Homo sapiens: one gene and its partner. The protein of the gene in region 2 interacts with the protein of the main gene of each other region in a pairwise test. Each region holds a gene or a part of one and is shown on either strand. Other genes may lie near its edges.

Region 1 (3,749 bases), on a different chromosome or scaffold from region 2:
ACGCCCGGCCACAAAAATTTAATTCAAAAGTTGGCTGGACAGAGCCAGAGGGCTCCTCACCCTGAGGCAGGCACTCCAGCGTGTTAAATCATAACGTTGAGGGTAATGGTGTTAAAATAGTCACGTTTGCCAGGTGCAGTGGCTTACACCTGTAATCCTAACACTTTGGGAGGCCAAGATGGGCAGATCACCTGAGCCCAGGAAAGAGTTCGAGACCAGTTTGGGCAACGTGATGAAACCCCACCTCTACAAAAATAAAAATAAAAATTAGCCAGGTGTGGTGATGCATGCCTGTAGTCCCAGCTACTCAGGAGGCTGAGGCAGGAAGATCGCTTGAGCCCAGAGGCTGTGGGTTAGCCGTGAACGCGCCACTGCACTCCAGCCTGGGAAAGAGAGCAAGACCCTGTCTCAAAAATAATAAAACTTCAGGCCGGGCGCGGTGGCTCACGCTTGTAATCCCAGCACTTTGGGAGGCCGAGGCGGGTGGATCTCAGGAGTTCGAGACCAGCCTGGCCAACATGGTGAAACCCCGTCTCTACTAAAAATACAAAAATTAGCCGTGCGTAGTGGCAGGAGCCTGTAATCCCAGCTACGCGGGAGGCTGAGACATGAGAATCGCTTGAGTCCAGGAGGTGAAGGTTGCAGTAAGCCGAGATCGCCCCGTTGCAATTCAGCCTGGGCGACAAAAGTTAAACTCCATCTTAAAAAAAAAAAAAAAAAAAAAGGCCGGGCACGGTGGCTCACTTCTGTAATCCCAACACCTTGGGAGGCCAAGGCGGGTGGATCACCTGAGGTCGGGAGTTCGAGACCAGCCTGACCAACATGAAGAAACCCCTCTACTAAACACACAAAATTAGCCGGGCGTGGTGGCGCATGCCTGCAATCCCAGCTACTCGGGAGGCTGAGGCAGGAGAATTGCTTGAACCCGGGAGGCGGACGTTGCGGTGAGCGGAGATCATGCCATTGCACTCCAGTCTGGGCAACAAGAGCGAAACTCCGTCTCCAAAAAACAAAACAAAACAACTAAATTTGAAGTGCAACAGTTTCTTCTCGTTTTTCCAGTTTTACAGAAAACCCAAAAGAAGGGCAGCTAAGGTGGATAATGATGCCTACCACGCACCCTAAGAGTAGGTAAAGGGGAAAAAATGAAATCCACGTGGGACTGCGAGTAGTTTTCGCCTTTTCCCGAAGACGCACACAATGCGCTTAGGTATACCTCGCGCAGAGGTCTCTGCAGAGAGGAAAGCCACCGTGAGAAGAGCGGGGAGCCCCCAGGCAAGAAGGCAGTGGCTTGTGTGTAGTGAACCGAAATGCGACACCAAGGAACTGCAACAGGATTCTCCTTTCCACTTGAAATGTGACTCCCAGCGAGACACCTACCCTTGACGCTCCCTGGACAGTGCGGCACGGTCGGGCCCACTAACCAAGGCAATTTGCGCCCGACCGAATCAGGTGCTTCAAAATCCCCCCTGGTGAGCCGCGCGTTAACCACACATAAAACAGTCAACGCAGAAGGAGCGAGAACGTTCGGCCGAAAAGCCCGGCACAGAGAAGGGAGGGGTGCTGAAAGCCGCGGACTGCAGCCGCTGGCCTGGCTGCCGCCCCGAAACAACGCCCACGCCCGGGAGAAGGGCAGGCTGGCGTCCAGGTAGGACTCCCTCAGGCCGCCCCGCCAGGGGCCGCGCCGAGCGGAGCGGCTGGACCCCAACCCTGCCGGCCGCCGCCGAGGTGCGCAGCCCGCAGCCCCACACCCACGGCCTTTGCAACACCCCAACCGTTGAACTGCGCCCCTACACGCCCGGCGTCTGCGGCTCCCAGGCCGGTGCCGATGACGTCAGACTTACGTCAGGCGTGACGCCACGGCTGGGAGGAGTGAGGACGGCGCGGGAGGGCGTTTCCGGAGCACGCGCCGGGCGGGGGCCGCTGACGTCGGGCTCAGGTGCGCGCGCCCGCCCGCACGGCCCAGTTGGCGGCGCGCACTCCAGGTGGCGGCCGGCTGCGGTGAGGGGACCGCCAGCGGCGAGCAGTCCCGGCGGCCCTGGGGTCTGCGGCCGGGGGCGCGGCGGGAGGGCGTCTGGGCCTGCGCTCACGTGACGGGCGGGGAGGTTTGTGTAGGGGCTGCGAGCCGGGTGGGCGCGGGCCCGGGAGCGCGAGGCTGACTGTCCGGCCCCACCCCTCGCGGGCCAGCCCTTCGCCGCGCGGAACCTTCCCTCGGGCAGGGGCCGGCCCCGCCGCTCACTTCCCGCGCCCGCTCGCCGCTGACCGGAGTTGTCTCCTCCTCCGCAGGGCCGCGGCCAGAGGGCTAGAATCCGCGCCTTCCGAGGGAGCCGCGCCCTGCGGGCCCCACCGTACCCGAGGGGATGGAGGGCTGCCCCCGAGGCCCCCGCGCGGCTCGCGGTCCCACGCCTGCCGGCCCGCGCTAGCTACTCGACTCGTGCGCTAAATTTATCCGTCACCCAGGCCTTGTCTCCCGAGTCATTGGCGTCGTGGTTCAAAAGAAATGGAAGAAAAGGAGCGATGTGACCGATTGTGTTCGGTCCTCCTGCTTTGAGGCCTGGCATTTGCAGAGGGAAACAGCAAGAAAATCGTGGGGATTTTGGAGGGGGGTGGGAGGGAAGGGTGGGGAAACGGAAACAAGGTCTTACATTTTATGTGTTTTTTTAAATTCTGCACTTTGACAGTGGTAGCAAAATAAAAGTAATCCAAAAGTTATTTTTCTATTGAGAAGAGAGAAGAGGTGGGTTTTATTTTTTTCCTTTTGATTCCAATCTTTTCTCCCAGTGACAAAGCATAAATCATGGACACCAGAGAATAAGGTGGACCTCAGGAATCCGGAAAAGACTGAGAAGCTTACATTCTTCCTCTAGAGGGAAGAGTGGGGTGTTTATAGCCATCTCTGGAACCTAAAACAAAAAACATGAGTTGTGTGCCATGGAAAGGAGACAAGGCCAAATCTGAATCATTGGAGCTGCCCCAGGCAGCACCCCCACAAATCTACCATGAGAAACAGCGCAGGGAGCTTTGTGCCCTCCACGCCCTCAATAACGTCTTCCAGGACAGCAATGCCTTCACCCGGGATACGCTGCAAGAGATTTTCCAGAGGTAGGGGACCCTTCTCCTTGGCATCTTGATACTGATATTTCTGGATTTCTGTGGGTGGGGCAGTGTCTCAGCTTCATAAACCTTCAAAGCTGTAGGTATTAGCTAGATTGCGTTAGCAGGTATAAGGGACACAAGACATGAAAAGATAATCACTACCATTTATCAGGCACTTACGGTGGGCTAGGAAAGTACTCATAGCCTCAGCTGTGTTTTCTTGAGTGATCTTCAACAGTCCCGTGGAATACGTGTTAATATGTGATGTTATTTCCATTTTACTGATGAAGACACATTTAGTTCAGTACCTCGCCCAAGATAACAAGACTTGGAGCTGGGGTTGAATTCTTATATCTATGCTGTTGACCACTATGCTATAATGCCTGTAAAGCTCTGCTGCCGAGGAGTTTACAGTCTAGAAGTGGGACTAGATACGTACACGTTCAGTCACCTGTCTTTAAAGGTGGAATGTGGTGGGTACCACAAGCAAGATGTATAAACAATGCTCAGCTTTTCTGTGAGGCCATGTGCTGGCAGTAGTGCTGTTCGTACATTGCTTTGTGAAGCTCTCCCAACAGTCATTTCACTGCCTGTATTATGCTGATAGGCAGAAAGGTCAGGTAATATGTCCAAATAGCTTCTAAATAGCAAAG
Region 2 (3,749 bases):
CACCCCATTTGGCATATGGGGAAGTTAAGGCCCAGAGCCCCTATCAGCCACAAACACACACCAGCTCCCAATCCATGCCAGGCTGAGGGAACACTTCTCAGCTGCCACCCAATTCATCAGGGCTCCCTCTGGGAGGGCCCGGACCAGCATCTCAGGGGCATCAGGGTAGACACAAGCACCCAAACCATCCTGTTTGACTTCCCTTTTTCTCTTTTTGGCCTGTCAGGGGACGCCTGCTGGCTCAGGCCTGCTTGGGACTGGCCCAAGTGATCACTGCAAAGCTGATATGGGCAACTCCTTGTGGCAGCAAAAAAGGGAGGGAGGGCACCCCTATTTCGGAGACTGGAGCAGGGGAAGGGAGAGAGGATGCACGGAGGTGAGGAGTCAGGCCCAGCCTGAGGCTGAGCCACCCCCATGCTCCCCACAGCCACCCAGGTCCCATGGTAAGCAGCCTCTGTCAGGAGGAACCACCTCCCTCCTCCAAAATCGGCTCCCCACCCCCTAGGACAGGGGAGGACTGCCCATGGAGTGCCAGGGGGGCTGGGACTGTGAAGTCGTGGGGGTCTGTGACTCGTATGTGAGACTCACAGTGTGTGGCACTCCCAGTGTTTGTGATTCCAGGTATTTGAGGAGCACACGCATGTGAGAGACACATGTGTGATACATATGATGGAGATATGCATGTGATAGCTACCCCTGTGTGGCGGACGTGTGTGCGTGTCAGAGGGCAGTAAGGGCACATGTGTTTATCAGAGACACAACTGTCTGCTAGAGGCATGCCTCGGAGGGGTGCCAATGTGCAAGGCATGTGTGTGTGGAGCATTGTGTGCTAAGGGGACGTGAGATGAGTGTGAGAGATTCTGGCCTGGGGGAGCTGGCGGGGTGAGCATGGGGCTGGGAGAGGGAGGATGTGGTGACAGGCAGGGTGGGCGCGCCAATGCAGAGCGTGCAGAAACTTCTGCTTGTGTGAGTGCGTGTGTGGCGGTGAGTGTGACTTGGGGGTGATGGAGGGGGTAGTGTTAGACCAGGGACTCTAGTCTTCTTTCCCCGAGGGGGTTGACCCGGCCCTCTGGACTGGAGGGGCGGCAAGGTCCTGCGGTCGGGGTGGGGGTGGGCAGTGGGACCAGAGGGGATGACTGGTGGGAGCCGGCCCAGGGGGGAGAAGTGAAACCCAGAGCGGAGGAAGCTGCGGACCTGGGGTGGGGGAACCCGCCCGCGGACCCCTGGCCCCCACCCCGCGCCGGCCTCTGTGCCCGCATCTGTACACTGGGTCGCGGCGCTCGCGGGCCGTCCCCGCGCTGGGACCGGGAGAGCGAGACCCGGTCGGACCGGCGGCGCGGGTGGAGGCGCGGGCAGCCCGCGAGGCGCGTCCGAGGGTCCGCCGAGCCGTCGGTGCGTCCGAGCGCCCCCGAGTCCTGAGCTGCGAGGCGCGGACCGACGGGGATGAGTCCGGGCGGGAGGGGCCGCGTGCACTCACCGCGGGGCACTGCGCTCGGCGTCCGTCCGTCCGTCCGCCCGGCCGTCGGCGCGTCGAGAGCCCGGGCGGCCCCTGGCTGTGTGCGCGCGGGGCGGGGCGGAGGCGCGAGAGGCGGGACCAGCCGGCCCCCGGCCCCCTCCCCTGACTCCGCCTCCGCCTCCGGGGCGGGGTCTCGGCCGCCCGCCGGAGAGGGGGCCGGGCCGGCGCCGCTCGCTCAGAGCCCAGACTCGCTGACCCGGCTCCTAGAGGCCGCCCGGCGCGCTCGCTGCGGAGCCCGCACCCTCCCTGCGCCCGGCCTAACCTCTGAGTGCCAGACCTGGCACTGCTGCCCACAGGGCAGGGCCAGGGGTTGGGGTCCGGCCACCTCAGCCAGCCTGAGCCTCAGTGATCACCCCTGGAAGATGGGCCCAGCAGCCTTGGGCACATTGTGAGGGCCTGAGGGGCCCGGCTACAAAACTGCCCAGAGGCCAGGCCCTGCCTCCCACCCGCCTTGCTTCCTACCCTGGGGGCCTGCCTGCAGCCCCACTGCTGCTGCATGTGCCTGGGCAGACGGTACTGAGCCCCCAGCTTTGGAACAGGTTCAGTTTGTCCTTTTCCTCAGCCCAGCTCTGATGCCTGTGACCACTGTGTGACCCCCGGGGTGTCTCTTCCCCCAGCCCACACCGATCCCTTTCTGGGTCTCTTTCGGGGTCTCCATCTCTGATCTAATGTCATCTCTCTGTCTCCCTTGGTTTGTCCCTCTTGGTCTCTGCATCTCCCTCTGACTTTATCTCTTGGTCTCTGTGTCTCTCTGAGTCTCTCCCATCCCTGTCCAGAGACGTATGGCCTGGTGGTCACCACCTCACATCTGAGCAGCAGCCATGGGCCCAAAGTGTGCCTGCCCCCACCCCCAGGGGTCTCCCTGCAGCCCAGGACAGGGGTGAGGCAGCCAAGAGCAAAGGCACAGGGCAGGGCAGCTGCCTGCCCAGGGCCGCACAGCAGAGAGGAGGTGGAGCCAGGAAGGGCCCATTGGCTTAGATGGGGCCACCCACAGAGAAGCCAGGAGCGGATGGAGGGGCCAAAGCCTGAGCTGGCAGCCTGTGCCTGGCCTGCCCCAACTTGTGTCTAACCCCAGGCAGGTGCCTTCCCTCTGGGCCCGTTTCCCCATTGGAGCTCTGTGCTTGCTGTTCCCTCAGGGCCTTTGCCATTGCTGTTCCCTCTGCCTGGGATGCTCTTCCCCAGATCCACCGTGGCTGACTCATCCCTGCATTAAGATGCAGCTGAAATCCCACCACCCCCAGAGAAGCCCTCCCTGAGACCCCAGCAGAGGTAGCAACTACCACTCTCCACCCTGGGACTCGGCCGCACTGTTATTACAGTACTTGTCACTGGCTGATTTCTCTTATTCATTTATAAATGACTATAGGTAGGATCACCTGGTCATTAAGAAAGTCACCACACACCAGCTGTGTGACCTTGGGCAAGTTACTTCACCTCTCTGGGCTTTATTTCCTCAACTGTAAAATGAACATAACGACATCAAAGCCTATCTTATAATGTTATTGGAAAGATCAAATGAACCGAAATGAGCCAAACCGAAAGTACAGATGCTCCTCGATTATAATGGGATCATGTCCCCATAAACCCATCGTAAATCGAAAATATAGTAAGTTGAAAATGCATTTCATCCACCTAACCTACAGAACATCATAGCTCAGCCAAGCCTACCTTAAATGTGCTCAGAACACTTCCATTACTAGCCTACGGGTGGGCAAAATCATCTAATACAAAGCCTATTTTATAATGAAGCATTGAATATCTCATGTAACTCATTGAATACTGCACAGAAAGTGAAAAACAGAATGATTGCCTGGGGATTCCAAGTAGGGTTTCTCCTGGGTGTGTACCACTTTCTCAACATCCTAAATTCAAAAAATCCTAAATCGAACCATCGTAAGTCAGGGATTATCTGTACTTTGGATGGGACTTGACCCAAGGGAGTGCTCAGTAAATATCTGATGAGTAAATGACAGATTGAATCCTTCCTCCTGTGGGGGAAGGAGGGGCAGTGGCCTGGGGTGATAGAGACCCTGGGCAGCTGCTAATGAGGCTCCCTTCCCCAGGCCTGGGAGGAGAGGCACTGAGCCAGATGCAGCTCACTCTGCAGCCCAGGGAGCCCAAGGCCTGGCCCGCCTTCCACAAGATAAAGTGGAGACACTTCTCCCGTCCTGTTATCTGAGCCGGAGATGCGGCCAAAGCGGCTGTCCCTTCAGAGCCCTTCCAAGACTGTTAT

The links.
Region 1: the proteins of FBLN2 (region 2) and JOSD1 interact in binary tests that used the Homo sapiens proteins (3 or more experiments, as listed by UniProt).

Annotation. Positions count from the first base shown.
Region 1 is NC_000022.11:38,699,156-38,702,904, reverse strand, and holds the start of JOSD1 (josephin-1), read left to right. Parts: upstream 1-1,961; 5' UTR 1,962-2,105; exon of another isoform or gene 2,106-2,286; 5' UTR 2,287-2,917; coding exon 2,918-3,102; intron 3,103-3,749.
Region 2 is NC_000003.12:13,546,937-13,550,685, reverse strand, and holds the start of FBLN2 (fibulin-2 isoform a precursor), read right to left. Parts: upstream 1,562-3,749; 5' UTR 1,478-1,561; intron 1-1,477. UniProt on the Homo sapiens protein: Its binding to fibronectin and some other ligands is calcium dependent. May act as an adapter that mediates the interaction between FBN1 and ELN.